Linked DNA regions of Homo sapiens: region 1 is linked to region 2. The links come from fine-mapping of genetic effects on plasma protein levels. A gene starts in region 2. The other region holds a variant in brackets. All regions are shown on one strand. Distances are from middle to middle.

Region 1 (16,863 bases), 18 kb before region 2:
CACAAAATGGTGGTTGGTGATGTGAGAGAAAGGTGTAGACAATAATTTTAAAAACATATATCTGGCCAGGTGTGGTGGCTCACGCCTGTAATCCCAGCACTTTGGGAGGCCGAGGCAGGCAGATCACGAGGTCAAGAGATCGAGACCATCTATATCTCCAACTATTCCCAAAATGGTAAGTGAAGCCCTAAAATAGTAATTCGAAATGATAGGAACCATAAAATTGAGTTAGGTGAAATCAAAGAGGCAAAATTGGCAAAAATCTGAAAGATAATTAATTCCACCTTTCATCTTCTAGGAGGCCTGATTTGAAAATTATCTTTATTCTCTAAGTGTTATAAAAAAGGGACGAGAAAGGAAGTAGGAGGTCTCTGGCGAAGAGAAGAACCACATTCCAATTTGTTTCTGGTAGCTCAAAGTTCTACCAATAAGAGAATTCTTTTTAAAAGTTATAATATAATTTTTAGAAATAGTAAAATTAAAAACAGTAGAATTAAAAAGAAAATCTCCCTATGAGTAATAAGCCTTTCCTACTGACTTGTTCTAAAATGTATTTTATTTGCCTACCAAACAATAATAGCAAATTCTCTAAATACATGAAGAAAATGACAGGAGTATAAGACATTTATTTTCAATCTAAATTTGACCAATTTATGTGCCCCGAAGTTTAATGTGGTCATCCAGAGAGATACATTATGCTTTACATTCAATTCTGTTCTAGTTCCCACAGAAGCTTCCTGGTTTCAGCAAGGACTCTCTTCATCAAGATCTATTTGTGTTTTAAGTGACTTCTCCCATTTTGTCCCGGAGTAAAGTAGGACAGTTCTAAAGTAGCCACATTTCTTAGTACCACCGAGGTCTTACTCTCCTCTCAACTTTCTGCTATCACTTCTGACCTCCTGCATGCTCCAATTGGATTGGAAGTGCACATCAGGGCCAGTCCTGGAGGGTATTGTATTCCTAAAGTTCATAGGTTTGCCTGAATTAAATTCCACCCATACTGTTTCCTAAATGTGTGTGTTTTCATGTTTCACATGAAATATCTTTAGTATTTCTACTCCATTATGTGCATACCCCACTAAAATAACACATACGTACAGATTCACACACACAAACCCTTAACTTAGGCTGCAAACACAGTCCCATCTTGCTTTGAAGATATTTGAAACGAGTCCGTGTGAACTGGCTTGTTTGATTAGTCTGGTCTAACTACACTGAGTTTGACCAGGCACAGATGACCATAACTGACTTATACTGGAACATGTAAAGAGGCTTAAATAATTACATTACAGAAAGGATATAAATGTCAGTATTGGAATAAAACCCAAATAAATAATTTCAGAGGTCAGCTTTAAAAAGTTTGGGACCTTAGAGAGGCAATTGCCTCAGATCAGTAATTACTGCCAAAGGAATGTTCTTACTTTGACATTTTCTAAAATATCTATAATGTTATCTTCATGATTATGCTGAAACAACTTTAAAAGACCTTTTATGAATTTTAATAGAACTTCTAAGTTGAAAACTGTGTTGTCTCAAAGTCAAGAGGAAAATAATTTTGCCTTATTTGGTTGACATCTTTAAAAGGGAGAGTTTGAAATTATTCAGCTCTATAGTAAACTCCTCGCTCCTATCCTCACCATTAGTGGTTTCTCAAAGATACTTACCAATTGGTATTGTACGGCCCTGGATCTTGTCAGCCCAACCTGCACAGTAGCGCAATGTTTTGATGCAGCCTGCTAAATCATTCAGATATGCATTGGAATAGAGTTTTCCACCATTCATTGACTCCATTGTCTGAAAAACATGTCAAACACCAAATCTAAAATTCCATAAGTTTTAGATTAAAAATATGTAGTAAATATTTTCAGCAATCATGTGCTAGGGAATTTTTGAAATAGAAGAAATCTTGTCATCTTGTCTAACCTCCACTTTTTAAGAGTTAAAATGACTTCCTTTAGGTCAAATAGCAAGATCTGGGCACAAAGGGTAGTGAGATTCTGATTTCTAAACCCCAGTGCTCTTTCTATCTCATTTTGATGTTCTCCTGCTAACCAGCTTTCTAGGAATCGGTCACAATTTGATATACACATAACATCTGAGAATGAAACCTAGTCTTCTAAGTCCTATCAGAATTCCAACAAGGTTTCTCTTATTTTGTAATCAACTGTGGGTGACAACTTAGTGTCAGTGACTATTAATGATGGCTCAGTAATCATTTTTAATTTTTACATTCCATCTGGATATACACAGTCTACTCACACAAACTTAAGTAATGCCTGGATTTTTCATCCATGAATTTCCTTCAGCAGAATTTTAATTAGGAAACTACCAGTGTTGCCATTATTGTCATAATTGCCGTTTTAATGGTCAGGTAAAGTTAAACATTTTCTAGTCATGTGCCCTAACCATTATAAGATGACCTATCTCCCCTTTGGCTTCTCTTCTTAAGCAGGACCTTAAGCTCTTTGAGATCTAATATTCTGCTGGGGTGGTTACCTGGCAGAAATGCACAGGTGATGAACTGTTAAAGCTATTTGTTTCTGTACTACACTCTCTATCATGTCAAAATTTAACCAAATGTGACTTTTGTATGCCTGTACTTTTCTCTCTATAGGATCTTATGCTGACAGGCAGTCAACAAATCAGATAATTGAGAAAAGCCAAGTTTTAGCATTTTCTGCTTTCTTCCTACAGGTCATTTTTATTACTATAGTTTTATTGCACATAGCTGCTCGTTCTGAATTTTTGTGTATTTCAAATTATGTTGAATATTTGAGTAATAAATGGTCCTTTGATTAACCATACTTGCTATTAACCATACATGCTAATGTTGATTTTTTAAAAATGTAGACTTCTTTGTTACTGCCACTTTCAGATTCTAAAGATGAAATTTGCTTGAAACCTGATCTTGGTATTTGTTTATGTTAAATTGGCTTCATCATAATGCCCAATTGAGACAACAGAAACAAGGAAATACCCTCCCCCAACTATATTATGCTCTGACTCATCTAACTGCTAAAACATAAACAAACAAAAATAGTATTCATAAAAACATGATTTTGATAAACCACATTAATAATTGGATTTTTTTTATTTTTTGCCTCTTTCATCTGTAAAAAGAACATCATTTAATTATGACCCTTGTGAACAGACACATTTCAGGAAGAAAAAAAGTAGCCATTTATTAAATATCTTAGCGAGCTAGACTAATGAGAAATAAGATTTATTTTAGAGAAATATTTTGGGCACCCTTAACAAACTTGAGTTTTTCCATCAAAAGAGCTCAGTGGTCAAATGCTTGAATAAACCTAATATATCATTCTAGGAGACTCAAACTTCATGTGATCTTATTGAAACCTCTGAGAAGTTTTAAGGTAAAGAAATTTCTAAAATTTGGTTTAACTTGGGTTTGCTAAAGTTTAGACCGTAGAATCTATTATGGGAGCAGAAATTAACATCATCCAGAATTGAAATGCAGATTACTATTTGAGAATAGTTCAATGTTAAGGGGCCTATTCATTGGGACAAAAAATGTTTTCATTTTGTTTGTAGAGAGCATATAGTGATCCCTAAAATCAAAACAACTTGCCATTTCAAACGCTGAATGCTTTTGAGAGCTCTAGCTACCCATCCAGCTTGGATAATACTCACCGCCAGCAGCAGACGATCTCTTTCGATTAAATCAGCCAACTTGTATAATAGTCGCCCCCTCTCGGAAGCATCCATAGTACGCCACGGGGATCCAATCTGAAAAGCCTGTCTTGCGGCCTTCACTGCCTTGTCAACATCCTCCTGTAAGTCAACAGGAATTCAATTCAGTAAGCTAAACATATTAGGCAAGCAAATTTAATGCCAATAACCCTGTAAAATAGACTGTAGTGCCTCATAAGCAGGCACTGTGTCTCCATTATCCCAAAGTCTAACACATTGCGCACATTCAACTACTGTATGTTGGAATTACTCCTGCTGAATAATCTTTACATGATGAGCTCCACGTACCTAGCACATGCTGGATTTCCTAGAATATAAGTGTTTTATGATTTTAATAGTTGCTATCATCTGAGTGCTTGCCCTGTTTCAAGTAATGTTCTGATGACTTTATACCTATTAGCTCATTTAATTCTCATTAATTTTATGGCACAAATATGTTCCCTGTTTTACAGATGAAGAAACTAAAGCAAAGAGAGACGGGAGCTTTGCTCAAGGTTAATAACTAAAAGTGGCTGAACTGAGTTTTAAAGGGAGCCCATCTGATTGTAGAATCTTTGCTGTTTACCACACATTATACTTTCTTAGTGACTGGGTTACAGGAATTCCAGGTCAAGCTCAAGATCCAAAATAATGAATATCTTCCTTGGTCTCTGGTGACTCAACAGCCTGTCCACTTTCATGAAGAGCCTATTGAAGGGTGAATAAGAACTTTGCTTTGCTGTTGAAGAATAAACCTTAGAAACATGTGCTCATTCCTCTTGTGCAGAGGGAACAGGGCATGGAAATAGTGGAACTAATAGAGTAGGATGTGCATGTGACAACCTCTCATTTCCCAACTGGGTACAAAGAGATCCTTTTAAATCCCTAATCCGATAAAGAAGTCAGTTTCTTATTAAAGATGCATGGCTTAAAACTACATTAATTCAAGTAAAAGTCAAAGAGTAAAGTGACTCCACATTCAGTGTAGCCTCCTGTCCTTCACTCTCATAGTGCCTTCACTCAATTTCTTTCTCTGTTGTGTTTTTCTACACCAGATATATTCTCTGGTTCTTTTGCAATTCACCTCAGTTACAAATATTGCCCTGACCACTCCACTCCCCTGCAGATCCCTGTTCAGACCTCTTCTGAGCTCTTACAGAACATACCTACTACTACTGCAAACACCATAAAGGAATATATCATTCCAGTGTTCTTTTGTACATAGAACTGGCCACTACATGGAATTGTATAGCTCCACAAATAGTGGCTATATCACAGGCCAGTAGGTTGCAATATTTTGCAGGAGACACAATTCCCTTTAAGAATTGGGGGAGAGAAAAAGTAATGACCCTAGATTTTTTTAAAAAATTGTACACAATTAAGCTAAATCCCATCTAAGGAGATATCTTCCCCTCAAATGGACCTCAAATTAACATCCTCCTCCTTAGGCTATATTCAATCAAGAAGACCCACACTTACAAGTCTGTGAATTAAAATACAAAAAAACTATTCTTCTAGTATTTATCACCAAAATAATATGATCTGGGGCAAGAGAGATATTTTAGAAGCACAATCTGGTCTGATTAAGTAATAATATTTACTGACTACAAGCAAAGATTCTTTCAGTGTAATACATCACACACTGATATATCTCACTGTCTAACTTTTCAGAGAATGATGATATATACAAAATATATGTATTTATTGCCTGCCTTTCCTGAGAAATACATATACAGTGCATATTTGCGGCATTCAGTTAATCACATTGATTGCTTATATTTAGACATTGTTTCATGCCACACGTTCTAACTTTTTCCTAAATTTACAGAGCACTGTTTGAAAAAAAGAAAAAGCAAACCACAAAAATCTGAGATTGTCAGCATGATCTGTGGATACCAGAGCTTATAAAATACATGCTGGTCTGTGTTTAAACAGATCTGTATGACACAGCTTTCATTTGGATCTTTCTGTTCAGTGTCCTGCTATTGGTCTTAGCCAAATATGGGCTATCATAGGGATCTTGGCCTCCCAAAGGGATACGGAGAACTGGCTTCAAGATAAGTAACTCTCCCATATGGAAAGCACATCCCTAAAGAATGCTGCTATAAATAAAGATGTTCTTATGATTATGTCCTTTGGATCATGCGCCCCCTTTTCTCACATCTTATATGTAATCTTGCAGATGCAGAAATACAGTAATGTTAGTTAATATATAGTTTGATATGAAAACAACCCAGATTTGAATTCTGATTCCTCTTCATTAGCTGTGTAAACCTTGAGGCATCTAACCATTCATCCCTCTAGCTAAAGGTTTGATAAATATTCGACTCTGCAGCATTCTCATCATCCCTCCGCTAAAGACAGCAGAGTGAAGTAAGAAGATTGTCCTTTTGGAATATTCAATCAAATGGGAGAGACATACAATCAAATCACTATCCCAAAACATTATTATAAACCATGAAATATGTTGTGGCATGACTTCTCTAAGGTTCAGCTTTCTTTTCTTTAAAATCAAGGTATGTTGCTTGGTGTGGTGGCGTGTGCCTGTAGTCCCAGCTACCCAGGAGGCTGAAGTGGGAGGATCGTTTGAACCTGAGAGGTGCAGGTTGCAGTGAGCTGAGATTGCACCACTGCACTCCAGCCTGGGTGATAGAGTAAGACCCTCATCTCAAAACAAAAAAAAAAAAAAAAAAAAAGAAAAAGCAAGACAAAAGAAAAAAGAAATTGGGGTATGTTACCTCACAGGGTTGTAATGAAGATTAATAAGATAACATTTAAACATTTTCTATGTTAGAACATTATGTATTATTCAATGGTGGCAATTGTTACTGTTGTCCTAGCAGTTAAAACTTTAAATTTTAATATAACTCTCAGCAATTTCTCCCTCTCTCAATAGAGGGAGATTCACTCTGTTGCCTAGGCTGGTGTGCAGTGGCACAAACATGGCTCACCAAAGCCTAGACCTCCTGACGAGCCTCAGGTGATCCTCCCACCTCAGCCTCTGGAGTAGCTGGGACTACAGGAGTGCATCACCATGCCCATCTAATTGTTTATTTTTAGTAAAGATGAGGTCTTGCTATGTTGTCCAGGCTGGTCTCAAACCCCTGGGCTCAAGTGATCCTCTCACCTTGACCTTCCGAAGTGCTATGATTGCAGGCATGAGCCACCGTCTGCCTAATTTTTTTGTAGAGATGGGGTTTTGCCATGTTGTCAAAGCTGGTCTAAAATTCCTGGGTTCAAGCAACCTGGCTGCCTTTGCCTTCCAACGTGGTGGGATTACAGGCACACAGGGATTATAGGTGTGTATTGCTGCACCTAGCAAGTTCTAATGTATTTTAATCCTTCCTTTCAGTTTTCACTGCTCTGAACAATTTTAGGCCCTATTATTTCATATTGTCAATGCTGTCTCAAGTTCATTCTCTTCTCTCCTCAAACTATCTTGGCTACTATCACCAGGCTAATCTTCTGCAAATAATTTTATCTTATCACTTTGTCTTTCAAATGTTTACACCTGTTCCCTTTCATCTACAATCTCAAGGTCAAAGTCCTCCCTGGTTTTCAAGGCCCAGGATTTTCAGACCACATCTCACCTATCCAAACTTAGTGTTTACATTTTTTCTACTCTATCTGACCCAACTCCTTCTTACTTTTGTGTCTGTAGTTCTCCTTGCCTAGAATATTATACCAGTATACTCCCTTACTTTCTAAATCCTATATATACTTTAAGACCCAGCTCAAATATCAATCTACCTAAAACCTTGCCAGACTAGTCCAGCTTGATGATGGCTACTAGCTAAGAGCCTACTAAGCTCCAGGCACTAAGGAAAGTTCTTTAAAGCCCCATAGTTACTATTACTATTAAGTATCATGAGCCTTGGTTTATAAATGAATAGACTATGGCTCATGGATATGAAATCTAGCAGACAGTAGAATCAACCTTTGATCCCACATCTGACTACAAAATCTAGTTCTTACATCTCTGTAAGGCTGCCCTAATAATGACCTCCTTTGCAACAAATATATACTGCTATTTGTTTTGTAAACTGTAATATTTCTTACAATTCTGGGTCTACAATGGGCAATAAATAAATTTTGAATAATTTGGTTACCTGTTTTATAAACTCATCATGTTGTACTGATTTTATATAAGGGGTGCCTTACATAATTAATTTAACTACATTGGCATTTACATAATAAATCATATTTTAATAGATTCCATGATACAACAAAACTTATACATTATTCAAAAACTGTTAGACATAACAGTTATTGTTTTCTTAATTCCAGGACTAGCATTTTTTAAATTTTTATTTCAGAACTGGAATTTTCAGGGATATAATTTTTTAATTAAACAGAAAACAATTTGGTACATTAACTCAGATTTGCCACCATCAATAACAATTTTGCTTATAGCACTGAAAATGCTCCTTTTTTTGAAGTAAGGGCCACAAGCTGAATGTAAAAAGACAGTTCAAATGATGATGAGATATCAAATGCCTCCTAAAGCACAGTTAAGGAAGGACTGAACTCTTCCATCACTCCCAGATGGTACATTTCCATATTAAATTCATTCAGAGATGGAGAAAATAGTTATCAGACCAGTTTTACTTTTACACATGTCAAAGGCACTTACTTTAACGGACATTTACTTTTATCCCCACCAATTATTTGTTAGGTCATGCCTTAGTATTAAAAGCAGTTTTCAGGATTAGTCAATATAGCCTAAAAGAACCACTGAAGTGAAAAGAAAACAGTTCCCACCCACATCTGTACTTTGCTTTGTAACCTCCATTTGTTCTTGCCCTTCCTCTTTTCTTTATAATACCGTTGAAAGGCGGTATGTAGCCCATTGTTAGCCCCATTCTACTTACAAATTAAATCCCTAAAACCTCTTGGCTCATTATCTACAGAGTCAGATACAGCATATTAGGTTTACTGTGACTATGTAATTTACTAGATTTGTACCTTTCACTAAGCAATGTCGGAGTTTACTATACATTTGTCGGCAAAATTGTGGGAAGAGCAATAATTATTTAAAAATATGTTTTAAAATAATTCAAAAAAGAATGTGATGATAAGAGTGCTAGATGTTCAAACTGGTTTACCATGAACAGTTTATACCATCAACATTTTAGTTTTAGTAACCAGTTGACCAGCCAACTCAGTTGGCATTGTGACCTGATTTGAAGCTTGGGTAGATGTTAATGAGCATCCTTGATCTCTTGGGTAAGCAATAGTAATTGTCAAGAAGCACAGAGCAAATCAGTGGCAAACATTTCTAAGTCTTCCAGTATGATCATTAGCTTTCCCTTACTATACTTTAGGAAGGAGGTAAATCCCACAAACTTCACTAAGAAAAGTCCTCAGACTGCCTGACAAGGTTTCAACTGGAACTTTGGGCATAGAGATTTGTTTTCCTAATAAAATTAATCCCAGTGGCAAAGGTCGATGTTCAAGGCTCCAGAACTAAAACATCAATAATATTTTTCTGTTTGTTAGTTGCAAACTGCAAACAGATCTGGCCTTCCTCTTGAATGGAGAGAGAAAGTATGTAGCTCTCAAGGGCTCACTCTGTCCTTGCCCTTTATTGCTTTTCTCACCTTCCCAGGCCTGCTAGAGCCACTCAAGCAACTAGAGGAACATTTGAGGTGGTGGTGTGTGGATCTCCTGAAGTCTCTGATAAAAGGCGTTCATTCTTCTTTGAAAGGTGAAGAATAAATTTCTCTCTTATTTCTGGGAATGGCTTATAGGGCACAGGCTTCTGGGGCTCCTATAGACCTTGCCAGGGATGATCAGTATTTCTATGCCCAATTTTGGTTTGGTAGCATTTCAGAGAGGTGCAGAGTGATCACCACAGTACAGTTTTCAATCACTAACTTTCTTAGGTGTCAAAACTCTTTGACCCCTGTTAAATGTTAACGCTTGAGAGGAGATACAACTTAACAGCTTAACACTTTAGTTCGGTGGTTCAAGATGCATTCCCTCACCTCCTTCCCAACCAACAACATCAGCATTACCAAAGAATTGATAAAAAATGAAAATTTTCAGGTCCCATTCTAAGATTATTGCAGTGAAACCTAGGGGAAGGTGGGGCTCAGCTATCTGTGTTTTAACAAGCCTTCCTGGACATTCTGAGACAGGCTAAATTTTGAGAATGTCTGCCATAGCCAATAGTCAGGTTAGTACTAAATTCCTAAGGTGAGGAATGTGGAATGTATGGAAATTCAACACTTGATGAAAAAGAAGACTACTTCATAGATTTATAGAATATACTATATCTATAGTATAGTATATCTATCGAATATAGTATAGCATACTTATAGGATATACTATATCCAGAAACCAAGGATATAAATGAGAGATGCAGTGTTGATCTCTGCAAGAAGCATATTGTCTCAGACAAATTAACCTATAGCTGTATAATACAAAGGTTATAATACAGGCAAATACAATGTCCTATAACCACACAGAAGAGAGTAAGTCTGCTTGAGAAGGTTAGAGAAGGCTTTAAATAAGTATAAAACCCGGGCATGACTGAAGGTTTAGGATATGCCTGGCACCGTTGAAGAGCTCTATATATTTAACTCCTCAAGCATTTTCTATCTCCTCATTTTACATGAAAAAGAACAGAATCTCAAAGAAGGTTAAGTACAAACATTGAAAATCTACGCTCTTACTATAGATGGTGACTTGAACTAGGTCCTGAGGACTACACTGTGGACATGTACAGAGGCAGTGACTAGCAAGCAATTGTTGGGGATGGACACTGGGCATGACGAAGTTGAAAGTCTTAAGTTAATGCGGTGGCCTGGGAAAGAGGCCATAAACAAAGGTTGAGTAATATTATAAAGGACCTTTGTTTGTGCACTTTTTCCCACAGACAGTGAGAAGCAGAATGGAGAATTTATGCTTTGGTGAACTCTTCAGTATAAAGAGTAAATCTGAATCTGAAAGCCAGTGACATTTGTCATCATTTTATTTTGTTTCTACTTCTCAAATTGTTAACCCCTATGGTTGAACTCCGTACTCCTGTGGCTTGAGACTTCGGTCTTACTTGTTTTCATCATACTGAAATCTGAACCAAGGGCCTCTCCTAAATCTAAAAGGGCCCCCTCAGGT[C/G]TGTCACTATCTTGGAATAAGTATCTGCATGGCCCAGTACGTTGAGATTTGTGATCTCATTTACTGGGGCTAAAGTAATGGAAAAGACTGGGCAGGAGACTGGCAGGAACATGTGATCGCTATAATTAACTAAAACACATTGTCATGAATAATATTATCCTTGGGTGTTGCTGACTTTAATTTCCCAGTAGTCTTTTCCTGCAGCAATAATAATAATAATAAAATAAAATAAAACATTACTTCTTTACAGAAATTTAAAACTTGGCAACCCCTGGGCAACTAAAGAGCAGAAAAATCATTTCAAATTAGACTTAGAAACACTTACGTGTTCAGAAAAATATTCTGAAGTTTTTTACTCTCCTCACCCAGGAGGAGAATAAAAAGTTTATTTAATATTATGCTATCTAATTTTTTATTTTTTATTTTTTGAGACGGAGTTTCGCTCTTGTCACCCAGCTGGACTGCAATGATGCGATCTCGGCTCACTGCAAGCTCTGCCTCCCGGGTTCAAGTGATTCTCCTACCTCAGCCTCCCGAGTAGCTGAAATTACAGGCATGCGCCACCATGCCCAGCTAATTTTTGTATTTTCAGTAGAGACGAGGTTTCACCATGTTGGCCAGAATGGTCTCAATCTCTTGACCTTGTGATCTGCCCGCCTCAGCCTCCCAAAGTGCTGGGATATCTTACTTTCATAATAAGAAAGACTATTTAATTTTTTTTTTTTAATGGAGCTTCACTCTTGTTGCCCAGGCTGGAGTGCAATGGCACTATCTTGGCTCACTGCAACCTCTGACCCCCGGGTTCAAGCAATTATCCTGCGTCAGCCTCCCCAGTAGCTGGGATTACAGGAACCCACCACCATGCCCAGCTAATTTTTGTATTTTTAGTAGAGGTGGGGTTTCACCATGTTGGTCAGGTTGGTCTCAAACTCCTGACCTCAGATCATCTGCCCGCCTCGGCCTCCCAAAGTGCTGGGATTACAGGTGAGAGCCACTGCGCCCGGCCAACCCTATCTTACTTTCATAATAATCACAAAGTGAAGCAGTAGCCCTACTAGGCACAGGTTATAGTGTCAGAGGAACAGCATTTTAATGTTGAGGTTATTACTTATTAGCAATGTCACCTTGAGTAAATTACTCAGCCTTTCTACTCTGCCATCTCATCATTATTTGTAAAAATGACTCAAAATAGTACCTGCCCTATAGGGTTGCTTTAAGTTTTAAATGAAGATAGCATTTAGAACTTGAGAACAATTTTCACTAAATAAAAACTGGTTTTTGTTGTTTCTATTATTAGCTGGAAAATAACAACGCTTGTAATTTGTTAGTCAATTTAAGTTATTCTATAATATAATTTTTACAGGTGTTGAATAATAATATTAATGCAGTGATTTTTAATAAAATAACTTAGTAATATATTGTTCTAAAAGTTCTATAATAACTTTTAGTTTTATCTAGCAACATAAAAAGAACAATTTCATATGAATAAAGCATTTCTCTCCTTTTTCCTTTTCTTTTTTTTTTTGGCTGGAGTGCAGTGGTATGATCTCGGCTCACTGCAACCTCTGCCTCACGGGCTAAAGCAATTCTCCTGCCTCAGCCTCCTGAGTAGCTGGGATTAGAGGCATGTGCCACCATGCCTGGCTAATTTTTGTATTTTTAGTAGAGACGGTGTTTCCCCATGTTGGCCAGGCTGGTCTCGAACTCGTGACCTCAAGTGATCCAACTGCCTTGGTCTCACAAAGTGCTGGGATTACAGGTGTGAGCCACAGCGCCCAGCTGAAGATTTCTCTACTTTATAACCTATGATCAATCCCTTCTTATATAGTCTGTAAAATAAATCTATATACTATTTCAATTGAAAATAAAGGAAAATGATGTGAAAAAAAATCACCATGACACCCAGAAGCACAGGTTTATCATTATTACATAACTACAGAGCATTTTTTTTTTTTTTGGTAACAAGGACAACTTAGACAATTTTCCTAAGCTGCCCCAGAAACCATATTTTCATGGCATGTCTTTTGGAGCTTGCAATGGGGTTCAGGAGCTCAGAATGGCAAAAAACCAAGAAACCTGGCATAAAATGAAACTAGTGTTCAGAAACTCACCTTATCTCCTTCTTCTACCTGGCAGAGCTCCTCCTCAGTTGCAGGATTAAAGACAGGAAATTTCTTGCCACTCACTGAATCATGCCATTCATTGTTTATGAAGATCTGTAGAGATGAAGAGAAAATACATACAAGGCGCTTAAATATGCAGAAAATTTTGGAAGTTTTCATAAACTTAAACTAAAGCATTTCACCATGCCTAAATGATGCACATCTCTTCACCTCTCAAAACTTTCTGGCTGTTTGAGACATTTTGTGTTCACATGCATAGACATGTACTAAAATGAAGTACATAATGCTTTTAAGTTTAAGGTATGCAATCAGTTCAACACTAGAAAATACATACTGGAGAAAACAATCTAGAAAACAATGCTTTTACCTGAAATGGCCATGAATTTGAGGCAAAGCAAAGGCTTTTGTGGGCTTGGTCTTTATTAATGATTGCTTCTATTTTCCACTTTAAATTCTGAACATCCTCATTTTCGGCTACTGGTGATTTGGAATCATAAGAGACTATTTTCTAATCCTTTAATGTTTTAAAGTTAAAAAAAGAATTTTGCTAAAGGATTCTAAAAGGAGTTCACTTAGAGAAAATTAGCTAGTCACATTGTTTCATTGGCTTTTTAAAAGCATATGGTTTTATTCTCCTTTTCAAAAGATTACCTGGTAATTTCGTTGTCTTCAGACAAAATCAGGAACAAGATTTCTTAATGGTAACTATGAGAAATAGACATGCAACTAAAGAAACAGTAAGCACTAAAAAATATGAAATTTTGTCTGTGTGTACTATAAAATAGAAATACTTAAAAGCATCAGTATGTCATTTAAAACATCTCAGTTTCAACTTTCATGTCACTGAATTTGTCTTTTCTTGAGGAGCCAGCTTTCACATTTCTAATTATTTGAAATATGAAAACAATCATAAATACAGTCTTGGATAGTATATAACTTTCTGTTAGACTTATGACAAGATGGACTAGTTTATTCTATTTTGAATCAGAGGTAGCTAACACAGGGAGTAAAGGAAGGTGACATATGTGCTGGATTATAACATATATCCTAATTCAGACATCCCTTCTTACTGGATATCTAAAGATAAGTTATTAATAGTTCAACCCCGAGGGAGAATGTAATGAAACACTCCTCCAAGGTTTAAATTAGCTACTATGCTAAATGCAAATTACTTATTTATTAAAAATTCCCCGGTGATCACTAGCATAGCTTAAAATTCTATCAGAGTAATAAAATGTATATTACTATATATCCCTAAATGCCTGAATATAATTCATTCTATATTCTGTGATTTATTATTTAGACAAAATATACTTCCCTGGTCTCCTCTATACTTCCATTGGACAATTTGTCACTTTTTAAATAGTCATTTTTAAGTGTCTGCCTTCCATCAAGGGCTGTGTATGGTTTTCCAGTCTATCTTCAGTGTCCAACAGCCCTCAAGCAATTTTAGCCTCAGTAAAAAATTCTTGAATAACTAACTTAATTGAATCAAAGATCTATAATCCATCAGCTACTCATGGATAAGATCTATAACGTTCTGCAAATGAATACTCTATGACACTTGTGATTTCCTACAAAATGGGGAAGAGGATAAGCCGTCTTGTTTGCCCATTCATGCCAATATAATTTTCCATACAAGAAAACAGCATTATTTCCATACAAGAAAATTATCCTGTATAGTTAGAAGCATTCAAAGGAATTGTAGTACTAGCCTGAAATTGATGGTAAAACACATGGGCATGCCTAAATAAAGGGAAAAGGGGCCCAAAGCTGTTCAGATGAAGAGACTAGATGTGCAAAAATACATATATGGGGAAATGAGAAAGATGGAAGAAGTATCAAGAAACCCTATCAGATTACAGAAACAAGATTAACTGAATACAGATGAAGACCATAAAATTCATTGTATTATCTTTTGGGAAAAAACACTAGGCTCTTAGATCAACTTGAGGAAAAATAAATTCAGACGAAAGTGCTGATTTGCCCAATGTCTCTTAGAGTGAATCAACACTCTAGCTATCAGAAATACATTTTACAGAATCCCATAATTATTCTTAGAGTGTTTCCATTTATGCCCTTACAGCTTAGTATTTTTCTTCTCAAGGGATGGCTGGGAAAGAACTTAATCAACTTGTCCCGAACTCAGCTCACTGTCATCTCTAGCTTTATGCTGCTCTCACCCCAAAGTTCTGAAGCTTGCTCATGCACACTGTCCCCCAGCCCTATCTCTCACACACTTTCCTTCTTCTGTTAATGACACAAATAATCCCTAGGTACCCTTTTGTATCACTTTGTTCTATACAAGTATAAAAAAGCTTTCCCTGTTCTCTTTGCCCCCTACCTCTGCCTAATTAAAATTTAATTTTCACCTTGTCATCATAATCTTCCTCAGATTCTGTCTACAGCCCTCCTCAGAATACTTTAGTGATCCTCTATTGTCAGACTGCTTAACATGGCACTGGAGGTGGTTCACGATCTTGCTCCAACATGCTTTTCCAGTCTTTTGCTCTACCATTCCCTCAGTTTACCCTTTGTTCCAGCCTCATTCTACTGCCTCAAACACCATGCTGTTTTTTGCAGCATGCTTTTATTCACACTGTTCTTTAGACTAGAGTTCCACTATTTTCTTCTATTTTTACTTCAAATTCTAGCTTACTGCGTCATCTCCTCATGAAGATTTGACTAGTTGCTCCAATTGAATTTAATCTCTTTTTTCTTCTTTCCAACATAACATGTTAGTATCCTACTGATAAATTACTTATGTTCTGCTTTGTGTTAATGTTAGATATCTACATATCAGCCCATAAAATTCCAAACAAAAAACTAAAGATATTGCGATACCTGCCGTAGACTTTTAAATCAGTCTTTCAAAACCTGCATCAGATTTATTCACTTGGGAATTCTGCCTTCTCTCTGCCTAAAGATTGTATTACCACCTTAGATTTTGTACCTGTAAACTAAGGGAACACAGATTTCATTTTGGCAGAGATCCAGAATTTCACCCTTCTACAATGTAATTTCATTAAAAATAAAATAAAACAACATACAGAATCAATTACATTTTGCTAGGCCTGTGGTCGGACTTTCTAGTTCTCGCCCGAGTCCTCTTATCCTTAGGTCTGTGATAATCTGTGGTTTCAAGTTCTCAATAATATGCTCTCAATATATTATAGCTTATTTTACTCTCTTTACACACTTTTTTGTAAAAGAATTATTACAGTATGTATGTACCATCTAGTTCCATGATCAGAATTTGCATCTAAGCTGTACATAAAACTGCCACTTTAGATTAAAGCCAGTGAATGTTTTGTAAATGAGCATTAACCTGAAGTAATAACACATGTTTATCTGGCAGCCTGCAGGCAACTGAAGAGATCAGCTGTAGAGGACCCCAAATTACCAGCACTGTTCTGCATTATTCAGTTTTAACCTTTAAGACAGGAGGACACTGTGAGCCCAACTTGTGTTTGAACTTGTGTTGACATTTATATAATCATGATTAGTAACTTTTGCTTTATCAGAAAAGTGTTTGTCCAATAATGAGTAAATACTTGAGACATAGTCTGGCAGTTATTGTGGAAAAATGAGAGATGAGTTAGCCATGGCCTCTGCTCTCAGGGGCTTATAATCTAAGAGGAGAATGTATTCATATCAAGAGCCGCCAGTACAGAATTAAAGACTGTGGAGCAAAATGGCCAAAGCAGCGGTGTTGTCAATAAATGGTGTAGAGGGGCATAGGCTGAAAGAATGCTTCTTTGAAGGATGGAACTGGATTGGTGGAAAGAAGGAAAAAAAAAGAGTAAAGGGAGGGACAAATCTTTGGAGGTTTGTAACACAGTAAACAGAGCAGCTCCCAACAGAATGGAGTTGCAGTGGACATAAGTCACAGATAAGGCCTGACATTGAAAATAAAGTCAATTTGTGGCAG
Region 2 (16,863 bases):
GTGGGGAGCCCCTGACTCCTTGCAAAAGATACTCAGAGTGCCTTAAATTAATATTATCTCGGCAGGGCAGCAACTGGGCCAGCAGCCCTAGAGTCTGTAAAGGAAGGCAATACTTTCTTGGTGGGAGAGAGATTTTAAGAGATCACATTTTCAATGCACAAAGAATTTCTTTTAAGATTTTCCAAACGAGAGGGAGGGTGATGAGAGTCCCCATTTAATGTCATCCATGTGAATTTTCAAACTTGAGAACTGAGTCACAGCATAGGCTGCATGGGTGGTGGTGTGAACCTGTGGAGACTGGTGTGTGCTGTAAATGTGTCAACCTTTTCTCAGCTTAGGAACCTACCAAAGTACTAAAGGCCGCTGGGAGTCAGGGAGTATGAGATCGGAGATGAATAATGAGGAGGAGAGACTGAACAAAAGTCAGGTGGGGTGTTAAACATTTAAAAGAATCAAAGCTGGATCTCTGGCAACTGCTTTGCACCCTAACCCTGAGGCAGGAAAGCAAAATGTTGAGACTCAAAGTTAGAAAATGTAAAAGGAAATTAAGGAGGAAATAACAAAGGGAAAGAAAATTTTTAACTGTCATCAAATGAATGAAAACAAAATGACAGAATGACGAAAACAAAAAATAGGAGAAATAAAATTTTCCTTTCATTTGTTTTAAATGATAGTCTGACTTTAGTAACGTGAGTATATACTCTTTTTTCTTGTTGTTTGCAAAACCCCATCAGCCTTTTCAATTGTGTCAGGGAAAGAGAAAAGATGCCACAGCATTTGTTTTGAGCCACTCCATCACTGTGTCCTAGAGATGATAACAAAACTTGTCAGCAACTTCTGTACATCATATATTTTCTGTATCAGAGTTAAGATGTAGAAGCGATAGAAAGTTCTGCCCATTTTTAGCAGTATCAAGACCTAGTAATAGAATTGCTCGCATGTAAGCCCTCTTCCTTCTAAAAGAATGCCAAATATAAAGCATAATTCAGTAGTTATTTGTATTCCTTTGACATCTAAAAAAGTATCGATAGAGCAGTGGAAATAGTCAGTGGAAATGGGACCAGGGTTGGGGGAGGGAACGGTTCAGGCAAAGTTTTTAGAGATGTGAGATTTGTGCAAATTCCCCAGTGAACAAATTTCCATTAGTAAGTCAAACGTTACAATGAATCAGGTAGAGATAATATCAGAAAACCCAATATTAGCAACACTTCACATCCTTCTCAAGCAATGCTTCTAAGTTTGTGGATACTTTTGCTATATACATCTATACACCCAAAACATGTCAGCGTCAGGAAAACCAGTATTACACAGATTTACTTTTCTGATTTATTGGATTCTAAGTAAGGGTTTGTGAAGCAATCCTTGCTCAAATTCTTTTGAACATGGTTCTATGTTGTCACTTACACTTTGTAAACATATAATATATCCCCTGGCTATAGTTATAATAGCATCATGATAAATCAAACCAAAGTGCACCCCCCCACACCACCATCCCAAGCCAGATAATTGCTATTTTCAGATATCTCTGTTTGATGTCTGTATTTCTGTGAGATTTATTTTATGCTGATTTGCAACATATCATCCTATAGATTATCCATGCCATTTCAGAGTCATTACCTTTACTTTGGGTTGGTCTTCAAATGAGTTATTTTTCATATTCTCTAAGAGTGTTTCCCTCATTCTGGCAAGTATGTAGTGACAAATTCAATAGGTTAAAGTCCCTGTTACAAAGTTATATAAAGAGTTGTACTGAGAGCCCTTATGAAATGGGGACAATACCCTCTCTTAGGACATGTGTTCTTTACTTTAGAATTGTTAATTCCATTTTCTTACAGTCAGGCAGGTGCCAGAAAACAAAACAACTTGCCAAGACAGCAGTCCTCAGAGATGAGCATTCTAAATATTAGTAAATGATTATCTCCCACTATTAAAATCAATGATTGGTTCTGTCACTGGTTTGTAGCCATCATCATGTTTCTGCTTAGCTCTGGCACTTTCTGAAAGGAAAGTTTCTGATGTGGCTGAGTGCTAGTTTCTGGAAGAAACTGGAAGCTCTATTGTGAAGTAACTGGAAGGTGGTTGCTGCATTGAAGTTATAAGGCTCACTCACCTAAAACTTTTAGACCCTTGCTGCTGGTCAACAGACATTTTGGTAGCATCAGCAAAAGCTGAAAGACTGTTAAGAACACAGAATCTCAGACTTCAGCCTAGATCTATTCTTTCAACCACAGTAAGGAATGAATGATAAAAATGCAGTAATAGGTGTGAAAACAGTTGTTAGAGCTAATTGGGAAAGGGGGATAATACCCTCTTCTCTTAGGATATGTGTTATTTACTTCAGATTTTTTTCTTGATTAGGTTTTCTTGAGTGAGATTCTAGTACTACTGGTTTTGATATTTAAGGAAAAAAGGATATCATGTGGGAAAGCATCAGATCCAAGATAAAAAGATTTAGAATCCAGTTTATTCTACTTTTGCATTTTAAGAGCTATGTGACCTTAAGTCAGTCATGATCTCTGAGCTCGGGCTCCTCAGCTTTGAAATGGGACTCTGCTAACATCTTTTCTAGCTCCTCTCAGTGGTTAATGATGCACCTCAAATGAGAGAAATATATGAAATCAGTTTTGAGCTGTGATAAGCAATATAAATATAACTTACATTGAGAACAGAATGATCATATAATTCTAGGAGTCATCTTGGGAAAGAGAATCAAGGAGAGAAAGGACTAAGTAGTTAATAAGTGCCAGCCACATTCCACAAATTACCTCACTTAATTCTCACAGCCACTTTCCAAGGTAGTCATTCTCATTCCCAATTCACAGACAGAGGAACTGAAGCTCCAGGGGATGAGAAGCTTGGCCAAGGTCATATAATTAAATACATAGAATAGCTGGAAATTGAAGCCAGGTTTAGCTTGTTCAGTCACTGCACCTTGCAGCCAGTCAGCTATTTTTTTCACCTGCTTCCAAGCCCAAAGCAAACAAAATATTGCTTCAGTTGGAAGGAAGTTAAAAACATTTCCCAAGTGAAAGCAGCATCACAGCACAATCAGCTTTGCGTTGAACATAAGTCCTTTCCTGTTTTAAGCACCTCTCAGTGATCTTCCTCAAAATCCGCCAGCCGATCTGGCCCCAGCCTGTACTTCAGTTTCATCTCATCCATTCTCTCCCTTATTCACTTTACTCCAGCCAGATTAGCCTTTGGATAGTTCTTTGAGCATAACATGCTCTTGTCCTCGGGGTCTTTGCATGTGGTAAGACCTCTGGATCTTTGTTCTTCCCTACTCTTGGCCACCTTATTCTCTACATCCCTCAGGCTTACCTTTAAAGCACCTTCCCAAAAATCCTCATCAAAAGCTCTTCTACTCATATCCTCTCAGCTTTCAGTTATTTTGCTTTAAACATTTATCCTAATTTCTGATTAAAGCATTCTCTTATTTTCTGCCCCACACTATTCCACACACCTTCCAGGAACAGAGGCTGCATGAGACGTGAATCATATTAGCCCTCTTATATCATGAGAACTAGCATAGGGCACTCATTCAAGGCCTTGTTAAATAAGAGGAAGGGAAATATGGGAGAAACGAAAAGCAAAAGGGAGAAACAAGCAAAGGGGACAAAGGAGGTATTTGGAAGTTCATGTAGCTGAATTTGTTTGTTGTAAGAATTTAAAGAGATAATCATGGGGGAAAAGAAGCACTTCAAATCGTGCCTGGGACGTATTATTCAATGATTCATAACTCTTCTCCATTGAAAATATCTCTTTAACCCAGAAGGGTTAAACAAAACCAGAAATCTAGGAAAGCAATCTCCTACTCTAACCAAAATCGATTCCATAGGAGTTGAAGAAATGTAGTTCACACAGACATTTCACATCCATGTCAAAGTCCTCTGCCTCATAGCCTCTCCTAGCCCAAACGTCACATTTTCAGTCAAAGCAGAAAACCTATTTCCTTTCAATTTCCCTATTGTTCTCTTTTTCTAAGTTGGCTGCAAACTTTCTCTTATTGGCCTGGGAACAGCTGAGCAGCAGCTGGAAAGACCATGGTAATCAGCAATGGGCAAATGAAAGTCAGGATGAAGAAGGATACAAGAGGATTCTGGCAAGTCAGTGTCCCAGAGTAGTGGAATTGACCTTAGACAAGTCTCTTGCTAGTGTGTTAGCTCAAACTGCCAGCATTGGCAGTGTAGCTTTGTCACTTACTTGCTGTGTAACTTTAGTAAGTTACATAGCCGCTCTGTTCCTCAGTTCCCTGAACTGTGAAACAGGAATAGTAACCTCCTCATAGGGTTATTATGAGGAGTAAATAAAATCATTGTCAAGAACTTAAACAGTCATGGCAGAGTAAGCACAATAAATTTTACCTATAATTATTTATTGTGTGTGTGTGTGTGCGTGTGTGTGTGTGTGTGTGTATGTATGAGTAAAATGTCATTAGCTGATGAAGGTCTTTTGTAGCATGAACAAACCATGGTTTAATAAGTGAAGCTTACTAATTAAGTTAAACATTTTGGCGTTTGAATTCTGTCTGAGAATGCTTGTCTTCTTGAATTTCCTATTTCCCTTTTATAAAAAAAAAAAAAGAAAAAAGAAAAGGTAAAACAACAGTATTGTGAAGAGAGAATGGCAAACAAAGTTACCGAATCCTGTAGGAGAAAATTTTTGATCCCTGAAATCTTGGAAGACCCTTGGAACTTCACTCTGATGCAATCTTTGTCAGATGGGACATGACTGTACAAAAAAGAGTGACAGAAAAGCTAGGAGAAGACGTGAGGCATACTTGTAGGAAACAGGTCTAGGAAAGGTTGGGTAAAAGGGAATATTCTGGAAAAACTGGAAAGGATTCAGAAAAATAGGACTAGGATCACTAACGTTAAATCATTTCCCATGTCCAGGCATTATTTCAAGGGCTTTGTACGCATTAAGTTCGTTTAATACTTTCATCGACCTTAGAAAATACGTGCCTTTATCATCCCCATTTTAAACATAAGAAAACCGAGGCAGAGAGAAGTAATGTAGCTTGCCCAATGATCACATAACTTTCAAAGAATCTCTTCATTTAAAGGCTCAATAAAATGGAAAATGTGGGGTTCATTTAGAGTTGGAAAGAGGAGTAATGAGGATAAGGATGGGATATGAGTTCATATTAGTGAATTTATAGCGATGTTTTTGAGGTTTTAAATTCCAAAAGCTTTTGTATAATTTTAGAAAGCATTTCTTAAACTCTGATCTCTCTTTAATCTACCCCAACAAAGAAATAATCAGACTGTACTAGAAAATAAGTCATAAAAACATATGCATCAATAAATTCTTTTGTTTGGGTGAAAAGCAGTCCCAAGCTTGAGAGTATGTAGCTTTTCTATCGTAGTTGTAATATTTTTTTTTTTACTCAACCCTGTCTGTTCTCTCCAACTTGTCCTAACAACCAATATACTTCTAGCTATAATAATAATAAAAAAGGACATTAGAATAGTAACAGAAAAATAACACAAGACTTTAGGGGCTGGTAATAGAAGATAATTCCTCAGACACTATAAACTCCTTGCTTACTTGGTTTGTAACCAGGGAACTTTTTATAGTTAATAACCATCATTTTTTTTTTTAACTCCTCTTGCAAGAGCAAATTCAATCCAATTCTTCACTGGGACATAGTAAACAAAAAATGCGAAGGCATTTGAAAAAGTTCACCCATTTAGATTTAATTACATACATAACTGGCGTCCTCCCAAGTGTGAAAACGCTGTAACCAATAAATTAAACAATAAAATGCTATCTGAGCAGAACAGATTTATATAGAAGATGCACGAGAAATCAAAATTCACTGACTTGTTTGGAGTATTTTTACCCAGAAAAGTTCTTAAACACAGAGCAAAACGCCTGCTCTTTGAGTCTTGCCTTCTTTTGGACACTTAGGTCAGTCACTTTCCCTAGAGGGGAGTTGTTGCACAGTGACTTCGAAGTGAATAGGTTTCAATCTCAAAATCATCTCTCTGTGTTAAGGGTTCATTAGGTCTGTGCTTGTATGTTAGATTTTTAGGACCATCTCATTTGTCTAGTACCGCTTCTTACATGCTTAGTTAATGACTACTAAGTGAAGCTTAATTTAGCAGGAAGGTTATTTACATTAGAGCTTCCTTGAAATACACACACAAGGAAGACTTTGCAAACTTCTGCAAAGCCAAAGGAGTGGGGAGACAGGGGCATCCAGACTACCAAAATATCTTCCTAGGTAGTATTATTAAAAAAAAAATCCCATTAATAATAGTAATACAATAATCTGAGCATTGTCGACAATTTTGAGCTTCATGAAATGTATTTTTAAATGTACCCACTTTCAATTGAAATTTCTTGTGAATGACAAACTTGGAATAAGAAAATGAGGGAGACTGGACTCTTGCAACCTTTTGGACATACCTTTGCCAAATGTAAATTGTTTGACGGTATGGATTTACTGCATTTTTCATGCTACCATTTGTAGTAAAACTAAATGGAAAAAATCTTTCCTCTTTAACAAAACCTCGTGATAACAATACCTTAAAATACACTTCATAGCTGCTGGTCAACCATGTTAAAGGCACAATCTGATCTCTGCTGCTACTTTCCTGAGGAAAAGAGCCAATCAGCTGAGCAACTTCCTCATTTGTTGTGCTTTATGAAAATGAAAATGCAACAGACCTTGGGATTTCAAAGCCATCCATGGTTACAAGTGAGGAAATAAATATATAACAGTGGGGACTTTTACTTTATCATTAAATTATAATGCCCTTTGTTTTTCTGTTGGCTAATTCAGACAGCAAAATGGCTCTCTCTTGATTTGCAAGAGTTAATTTCTTACCATACTTTCTGCATCACACCATAAAGATAACTTCAAGTAATTTTGGTTAGATTGTGTTTTATTCATTTGTTTGTTTTGGAGTTCTAGGATCTGACAGGAAAGCAGTGTGAAACAGGCAAAGTTCAGAGTTACTCTCAGAACGACTCAAGCAGGATCCATTTCCTAGTTCCCCCCAGCTGCGGATTTTAAAGTCTGGATCTAGCTCCTGCTCTTGTTTCTCTAAATATTTATCAGTTAACAATTACACATCTGCTCCAATGGCAACAAACTTGGCTGAAGAAATAATGCTTTTCTTCCTCCCACCAAAATATGCAAAATAATGCAAGTCCATCTGAAGATTTTCGAATCCAATTATCAGACTTAAGTCCCCCTATTTTAACACTCATTTTATTAAACATATTGGAAAGTTATGTTATTTCAGTATGCTCTCTTTCTCCTTGTTTGCTTTCTATTGTTCCTACTCGTTTGGTTCTTTCCAGTAAGCTTCTCTAGTGAGTATTTTGCTCTCTTATCATACATGCCGGCTATAGTGAAGTTAATAGAAGTGCTTAGTAAAGTCCTCTGAATCCTGGTATAAGAATCCTTTCACACAGAAGAGAATTCCTTTCGCTTGGAAATATTTTAAGAAATAAATTTATGAAAGATTGTCTGATATGATTTAGATCATATTTGATCAGGACACTAAACTGAGACCTGCATTTTGCATGCCTTTTATTTTTATATTTGCAAAGGGCTCTTTACACAAGTTTACTTAAATTGACCTTTAATGCTTTACATAAATGCAGTTTTTGCAAACCCGAGTCAAAGCAGAAAATAGAAGTTTTACTCACCTTAGTATATTGAATCTTCAAATCGGTGAGTAGGACAGGTAAGTCTGGCGTGCCTGAGGATGACATTTCTGATTCGGCTCCTGGAACACAGGTGACTGGCTCAGCAATTTGGTTCTGATAGAGCACTTGGCTTTATTTGTTCCTTTTTTATCTGCACGGGCTAAAGTTTATTTGCATACTCGGATACGATTGGATGAACAAACTCAGAGCAAAAAAAGAAAACGACACTACTTATTTGTAACACCTAGGGCAGGAAGCCTTTGACTTTAAACTTAAATCCTTAAGAAACCAGTGCTCCAGCATCGAATTTGTACCTGGAGACAGTGCACTATTTGCAGATGAATTAATTTACAAAGCCGAAACCTGTGATAAGTGTATGCAGCAGCTGCTCTGGCCACTAAGGCCAGTTATTATTTTTTTGACTTCTCATGCTTTTTAATGCTACTATGTAACTTTCTGTTCTCTGACAGACTTGGAATCAGAGAATTTGAGGATTGAAAAGAGTCTAAAAGGGCACTTGTTCTCAGTAGAAGCTGGCCAGGTGTCTTCAGGACAAGGCTTTCAGGAAATCAGTCCATCTCCCAGAAAATCAAGGTGCTGTTTGGGGAAGAAAGGCCCTTTATCTACACCCTACCCTAAGTTAGTTTTAAAATATCGTATCAGTCTTGTGTATTTTCAGTGCTGGGTAAGTAGACCTACTGTGATCTCAGAAGCCCTAAATTATCTTTATTTTCTATATGTGAACAGAAAAGCCAGCAGGACTTTTAGGGAATTCGGAACACACTGTCACACACAATCACCACAATTAGAAATATGGCAATATCATCTATTAATACTCATTTAAAATGAAAGTAATCCTGGTTTTGGAAGTTGTCTGTATTTATCAACATAGGCAGTGTACAAAGACTAAATTTAAGCAGGGCTTCCAAACAATTCAAGTTCTTAAATTAATATTTAGCTGAAGGACAATTTTTTAAACAGTGTTACTCCCATTTTAAGTACAATACTTTATTGTATTGTAGCTCTAGCAAACGTTACAATAGGAACAAGATAAAATACTCTGGATGCTCTGATTGTGGAGAATCAACCAATTTTTTTTTTTCTAGTGAAACTTGCCAATTCCCCTGAATATGGGACTTACATAGGGAAACTAAAAATTTCTGAATTGTTTGCCCAAATCAGGTGCAGCACTTGTTTCCCTTTCTACCCTCATTTCATATCCCCATTTTAGAGACATACAGAGGGTGAGTAGCTTACTTATGGTCACAGATCTATTAGTGCAGGACCAGAATTTCATTTCAGGCCAGTCTGACTCCCAAACCTGGACTCTTATTTCTGTTTACTATTTCTACCCTATTCTCCACAAGAGAACTCCTACATGGGTTCAAGCATCAACTGCTTTGGTTTTCTCAGTGAATAGTCACCCTTACAGGCATTTAAACATAACTTTTTATTCATCTAAGACAAGAATTTGCAAAACTTTTTCTGTAAATATTTTCAGCCTCTGGGCTGGATGGTTTCTGATATAATTTACTTGACTCTATTTAAAAGAAACTGTAGATGATAGGTAAATTAATGGGTGTAGTTGTTTTCCTATAGAACTTTATTTAAAAAGACAGAAGGCAGGCCAGATTTGGTGCACGGGCCAACTCCCTAGATTCTAAGGCAATATCATTCCCAATGCCTTTGACTCCCCCGTGTCTTATGTTTGATGACCAGATAGAAACTTCTGTGTTCTTTCAACATTTCTCTGTTTCTTTCTTTTTGGAAAGTCTAATTGTTTTCTCTCTCAAAAATGTGTTTTGAGTTAAATGCACAATTACACAACAGCTGTTACATAACTTGAGAGTGGCGCTCTGGCCATGCCCAAACAGCTGTGTTTTGCTGCTTTCTTCTCCCAGAGTCACAGTTGTTTGTGGATTCAAATACTGGTTTATTTGATGTCCAGGCGATGAAAGCTCAAGGCTTCATAACATACTTGGCTTGTCATCTCACTTCTTATATGATCATTCTCAATTGTATTTTATTGGATAATTATGTAAGAACAGTCCCTTTATACCAGGCATTCCTGAATGTAGGCAAAAGGAGTTGCTTTGGAGACAGGTTACCACACCTGCCCATTTAATTTCAGCAAATATTTACTAAGTATCATTTATGCATCCATAATTCTTTAGCCCTAACCTCACTTAAGCAGATCTTTTCTGCCTAGAAACCACAGGGCCTGAGACCTATATTTTTGAGGTAAACATCATCCTGCCCTGAGAGCTTATTTTGTAGAATAGCATATTTCTGGGAATTGCTGCATATGAGGAAAAGATTTCATCAGACTACTTCTATTCCTTACAGAGGAAATAATGGCTTTTGTGAGAACCTAGGGACCAAGGTTGCACATTTTAGAACTGGACCCAGGATTGTACGTTTTTATGGTATGCCAGGACTATGCAGCAGAGGAGGAGCTGTCCCTTTAACTTGAGAGTAATCGACAAATGATGTTTCATCTTCTTTTTCCTCCTTATGAACAAACTAAATCACACACACACACACACACAGGCACACACACATATGGAGAGAGAAGCAAGAAACATAAGAGGATAGTTTATTCATCTCTTGAATTTGACTTCTCCAGCCATTTGTGAAAGCTTTCATTATACCAAGAAACATATAGATTATGACTTCAACCATTCTTGAAACTACTCTTTCATTTTACAACAAACATCTCCAGAACTCCGTCCAATCCTCAGTTCCTGAAAAGATAAAAGGAACCTAATCTGCCACCCAGGACTTAAAATTTTTAAAAAAATGTTGAAAAAAGTCATATGATGAATTAAAAATAGCTTCTGCAATGGACTGAATTTTTTTTGTCCAGTCACAATGGATATGTTGAAATCCTAACCCCCCATGTGATGGTATTAGGAGATGGAGCCTTTGGGAGGTGTATTAGTCCATTCCCATGCTACTAATAAAGACATACTTGAGACTGGGTAATTTATAAAGGAAAGAGGTTTAATTGACTCACAGTTCAGCATGGCTGGGGAGGCCTTAGGAAACTTACAATCACAGTGGAAGGGGAAGCAAACACGTCCTTCTTCACATGGTGGCAGCAAGGAGAAGTGCTCAGCAAAAGGGGGAAAACCCCCTTATAAAACCATCAGATCTCATGAGAATTCACTTATTATCATGAGAACAGGATGACGGTAACCCCCCTCCATGATTAAAGTACATCCCACCGGATCCCTCCCATGACATGTGGGGATTATGGGAACTACAATTCAAGGTGAGATTTGGGTGGGAACACAGAGCCAAATCATATTAGGAGGTAATGAGGTTATGAGGGTAGGACCCTCATGAATGGATCAGTGCTTTTATAAAAGGGACTCCAGAGAGATCTCTCGCTGTTTCTGCCATGTGTGGATGCAATGAGACATTGGCAATCTGTAACCCAAAAGAGGGCTCTCACCAGAACCCAACTATGTTGGCACCCTAATTTCAGACTTCAAGCTTCCAGAACTGTGAGAAATTAATTTTTGTTATAGCAGCCTGAATGAACTAAGACAGTTTCTTTTCATATTTCCTGATTTCAAGATGCTGGAACCATTTATTGAAGATGAACCTCTCCTACTCCAGTTACATGACCACTCCCCTAACTATTCTCTGTTGCCTTAGCATGTCTGCCTGTTGGTAAACCTAGCAAGAAATCTATCCCTATGCTTTTGATTACTACATTTTTATCAGATACCACATTGCTCTTATGCTTATTTGAGTTTTAATAATTTGGGAAAAGTGGATCTTGTATGTAGTGAGAGAGTCTGTACTTAGTTGACAAGTTGATGTTAAAAATGGAAGTGGAAGGCAGAATTCAAGTATATGAACATATGTATTTGTTGACTAATTTCTGTTCACATGCCATTCTTCTTCAATTGGAAAAATTTCCTCACCTCTGATTTCTCCTGCTCTTTACATATCTTTTCATTGTTCTTCTCTTTGGCTTGTGTTACTGAGATAGGATAGATGCCCCTCTAATCTGGTCTAACCAGGACACTAACTGATTAGTAAGGTCACTAAAAGAAACAGTACATTAAAGCCTCTGTAAGATAATTATTTGAGTTTAAATAGGTTTTTGCTAAACCTTATGGGTTGAGGCCATTTCTTGGAACTGGATTTGCTGCTTGGAATTTGAAATAATCTTGCATAAATAGTACTCATAGTGTTTTGTCTAGTTTCCAGTTTGCTTCCTTAATGTGTAGAAAGAAAGACATGAAAGACATCAATGAGTCAATCAAAATGTAGACTACTTTGAGATTTCCACAATTTTTTCTTTTTTTTTTTTTTATAATTCTCATGCAGATTATCCAACAATGTGTTTAGAAATTTGATGATATTGTTTGTAATATATTCAGTTTAATTTTCATATAAACAACTTTTCTTACCACCCCTGCCCTGGCAATGAATCAATATTTTGAAGCTATTGAAGGGGACCAGAAGACAAATAATTAAAGAATAAAGCTCTATAAACTGGAAAACATAAGACAATGGATTCTTTCCTAGAATCTCTGGAGAGAGCCTGACCTGTCCACTCCTTTGATATTGGCCAGTGAAACTGATTTCAGATCTCTGGCTTCTAAAAGTGTTGTTTTAAACCGCCAAGTTTATAACTGTTACAGCAGCCATTGGAAACTAATGCACTAATCAATAAAAGTTCAAGTTCATAGGTGTCAAAATGTATATGTTGTCATTGATCATGCACCCGTCATTCTTTGTGTCATTCAGGTTTATTGTTACTATCTAAATATTCTAATTTAAATAAAGGTAAGCTTTCTATCTGTACCTTACAATGAAAAACTCATCAGGTGTTTTATATATTTTATATACATATATATTTATGTATATATATGTATGTGTATATATAGAGAGAGTAAAGATGAGAAAGAGGTTTATTTGGCTCATGTTTCTGTAGGCTGTACAAGCATGGCACCAGCATCTGCTCAGCTTCTGGTGAAGCCTCCGGAAGCTTTTACTCATGGCAGAAGGCAAAGGGGGAGCATATATGTCACATGGAGAGAGAGGGAGCAAGAGAGAGGGGGAAATGTGTCAGGCTCTTCTTATAACCAGCTCTCCTGTAAATTTATTACCGTGGGGAGAGCACCAAGTCATTCATGAGAGATCCACCTGCATGACACAAACACCTCCCACTAGACCCCACCTTCAGCACTGGAGATTACATTTCAACATAAGATTTGTGGGGGAAAAACATCCAAAATATATTATTCTGCCCCAGTTCCCCCAAATCTCATGTTCTTCTCACATGGCAAAATACATCATTCCTTTTCAATAGTCCTCCAGAATCCTAGCTTGTTCCAGCATCAACTCAAAAGTTCGAAGTCTCAAGCCTCATCTGAGACTCAAGGCAAGTTTCTTTTACCTGTGAGTCTGTAAAATAATAAACAAGTTGTTTACTTCCAATATACAATGGTAGTACAGGCACTTGGTAAACATTCCCATTCCAAAAGGGAGAAATTGGCCAAAAGAAAGGGGCAATGGGACCTACACAAGTTCAAAATCCATCAGGGTAGTTGTTAAACCTTAAAGCTCCAGCGTAATCCTTGACTCCATGCTCAGCATTCTGGTGTGAGAAATGTGGTCCTGAGGCCTCTGGTAGCCCTGTCCCCATGGCTTTGCTGGGCACAACCCACATGGCTGTTTGCAAGGGCTGGAGTGAATGCCTGCAGCATTTCCAGGCTCAGAGTACAGGCTGCTGGCGGCGCTCCCATTCTGGGCCTAGAGGGCAGTGGCCCCATTCCTACAGCTCCACTAGGCAATGCCCTGGTGAGGACTCTGTTTGGGGCTCTAACCCCATTTCCACTTAGCACTTCTCTAGTAGAAGTCCTATGTGGGAGCTCTGCCCCTGCATCAGGTTCCTGCCTGGGCACCAGTCTGAATACCTGCAGACTTAACATTGCATGGAAGCTGCCAAGCCTTATGGTTTCATCCTCTGAAGCAGTGGCCAGAGCAGTGTCTAAAGCCTTTTGAGCCAAGGCTAGAGCCAGAGAGGCCTGGTATGGGGAGCAATGTCCCAAGGTAGTGTAGGGCAGCAGGGCTCTGAATCTGACCCCGAGAACCACTCTTCCTTCCTAAGCCTCTGGGTCTGTGGTGGGAGGGCTTTGAAATGGCTTTGAGGCCTTTCTCTCCTTGTCTTGAATATTAGCACTTGGCTCCCTTTTAGTTATGCAAATCTCTCTAGCAAGTGGTTTTTCCTCCAGCTGGTGGATTCTTCTCCCGAAAATGCTCTTTCCTTCTCTACCACATGTTCAGGCTGAAAATTTTCTGAATTTTTACACTCTGCTTTGCTTTTAATTATAAGTTACAACTTTAAGTTTTTCCTTTGCTCCTAAATCTGATCATAGGTTGTTAGAAGCAGCCATGCCACATCTTCAGTGCTTTGCTGCTTAGAAATTTTTTCCTGCCAGATTCTAAGTCATTACACTTAAGTTTAAACTTCCATAAATCCCTACAGCATGGACACAATGCAGCCAGGTTCTTTGCTAGGGCATAACAAAGGTAACCTTTGCTCCAGTTTCCAATAAATTCCTTATTTCCATCTGAGACCTCATCAGCCTGGTCTTCACTGTCCATATTTCTATCAGCGTTTTGGTCACAATCACTTAACCAGTTTCCAAGAGGTTCCAAACTTTCTCTCATCTTTCTGTCCTCTTCCGAGTACCCCCTCCCCAACAAACTCTTCGAATGTCTTCCTGTTACCCAGTTCCAAAGCTGCTCACATTTTCAAGTATCTTTATAGAAATGCCTCACTCCTTGGTACTAATTTTTGATGTTAATGCATTTTATGTTGCTTTAAAGAAATACCTGAGACTAGATAAGTTATAATTTTCTTTTAAAGAGGTTTATTTGGCTGACAATTCTGCAGGCTGAACAAGCATGGCACCAGCGTCTGCTCTGCTTCTGTTGAAGCCTCAGAAAGCTTTTACTCATCGCAGAAGCAAAGGAGCAAGTATGTTATATGGTGAGAGAGGAAGAAAGAGTTACATTTTAAAAACCTTCCAGTTTTGGTTGCATTATAAATCTTTATTATATTGCAAACGTATTATGCAATAAATAACGATTTCTGTGAAAGCTTTTGCTTTTTAAAGTAATTATTATATTTGGAGAATATAAAACTTTTGGTTTGCATTTGCTTGCTTGAATTTGTTTTCACATTTTAAAGTTATACATACATATCCAGATCTATGACCACAATCCAAATTTATCTTCCAGGCCCTGGCTTTGCATTTCAACTGCTGGTCAGATAACTAAGCTAAATGCCACACCTCATCATGTTGCTGGGTTTGCAAACCTGAGAGCCAGCATATTTGTTTTATGTGGACTGTGCAATACTGTACAAATTAGAAACATTTTAAACCCCAGATTTTAACTTCTTAAACTGTCAGAAGACCTGAAGAATAGTTTTAGCCTCTCTGCTACACATTAAAATCACCTGGGGAATTCAAAACAAACAAACAAAAAATAAAAGATTCTGACTCTGTAGGAGTAGTTTGAGCCCAAGTGCGTTTAAAGTGCCTTAGGTAATTCTAATGTGTGGTCAGCTGTCAGAATCATTGGAGCAGCTCTGGGTTCCATTTCCTCATAATGCAACCATGAAGCTGAGTAGTAAAGGTTCTCAAAGTTGGAGCAACAACTACATCCACTGGCAATCTTTTAGAAATGCAGTGTCTGACCCCATCTTAGACCTACTGAATCAGAAACTCTCGGGTGGGGCTCAGCAATTTGTGGTGTAACAAGCCCTCCAGGTGATTCTGATTCATGCTCAACTTTGAGAATAACTGCACTCCAACATAGACCTCGATCTATCTCTATTATTTATTCTAGTCGCCTTTCACTTAGGTTACTACCTAGTCCTTTATTTTATATTTTAAGACCACTAAAGGAACACATTATCATTTTTGCAACATAATCTTTTTCTTGAATTTCCTGTCTCTGATTAGGACAAAACAACACCAACCGAACTTCAGGCATTGGCAGTTTCTTGACTTTTTTTTTTTCTGTTAAAATATTAATTTTATTTAATGAAACAAATTAACACTTTCAAATTTCCAGTGTCCTTATATTTTAGATTTAGGTTTTAAAGAGCATACAGCTGGACTGCTTTTTATCCAACCTGTCTTTATTTAACGTTTATGTTTAATATGTATTTAATGTGTATATATATTTACTCCTTTATTTATATCTATTGTAATTACTGATGTACTTGTGCTTTCTCTTTGTCTTTAGATCAGTTAGGATTAAATTTGGCTGCCTCTGATGCAAAACCCAAAATAAATATTCAAGATGGAAATGGATTCTTCTCTCACATAAACAGATTGTAAGCAGGTTGTCCATGGCAGCCATGGTGTCAGAATGGAAAGACAGAGGCTGCTTCCAGCTCACTGCTCTAACATCCCTAAGGTATGGCTCTTTGCCTCCTGATAAGAGAAGACTGCTAGAACTCCAACCATTACATTTAAATTCCAGGACTCAGAGGAAAGTGACAAAGCTCTAGGGTCCATCTACATTTTGAGGAGGTTTCCCTGAAGCTTGGAGCTCATTGACCTTAGCTTAGTCTCATGTCCATACCTAGCTATAAGGGTAAATAAAGATTGTAAGCTTTCTCTAGGTAGCCTGGTTCATAGTTAAAAATCAGTGCTTGTAAGGGTTAATATCCAGAATCTACAAAGAACTTAAATTTACCTGAACAACCCCATCAAAAAGTGGGAGAAGAATATGAACAGACACTTCTCCAAAGAAGACATTTATGTGGCCAAGAAACATATGAAAGAAAGCTCATCATCACTGGTCATTAGAGAAATGCAAATCAAAACCACAATCAGATATCATCTCATGCCAATTAGAATGCAGATCATTAAAAAGTCAGGAAACAACAGATGCTGGAGAGGATGTGGAGAAACAGGAATGCTTTTACACTGTTGGTGGGAGCGTAAATTAGTTCAACCATTGTGGAAGACAGTGTGGCAATTCCTCGAGGATCTAGAACTAGAAATACCATTTGGCCCAGCCATCCCATTGCTGGGTATATACCCAAAGGATTATAAATCATGCTGCTATAAAGACACATTCACACGTATGTTTATTGCAGCACTATTCACAATAGCAAAGACTTAGAACCAATCCAAATGCCAATCAGTGATA

Direction of the effects. Positions count from the first base shown, and alleles are read on the strand shown. Strength reflects both the effect of a copy and how common the allele is.
With allele C in place of G in region 1, the plasma level of the protein whose gene starts at base 7,784 in region 2 is higher (weak association).

Evidence for each region. PIP is the posterior inclusion probability: the model's chance that the variant is causal. Protein levels are from antibody-based Olink assays in UK Biobank. Linkage for the fine-mapping came from a reference panel and not from the study's own genotypes, which makes the PIPs less certain.
Region 1: its variant is fine-mapped to the plasma level of the ALDH1A1 protein (UK Biobank, PIP 0.97).

The regions. Positions count from the first base shown.
Region 1 is chr9:72,927,228-72,944,090 of GRCh38, forward strand. ALDH1A1 (aldehyde dehydrogenase 1 family member A1) reads right to left here. Exons shown (of 13, transcript NM_000689.5): 2 at 12,921-13,025; 3 at 3,652-3,792; 4 at 1,665-1,794. Among named protein-coding and RNA genes, the nearest start is that of ALDH1A1, 17 kb to the right of the region's middle. The variant C/G (reference allele first, on the strand shown) is at 10,810.
Region 2 is chr9:72,945,270-72,962,132 of GRCh38, forward strand. It overlaps ALDH1A1 (aldehyde dehydrogenase 1 family member A1), which reads right to left and starts at 7,784. Exons shown (of 13, transcript NM_000689.5): 1 at 7,666-7,784. The coding sequence starts at 7,731.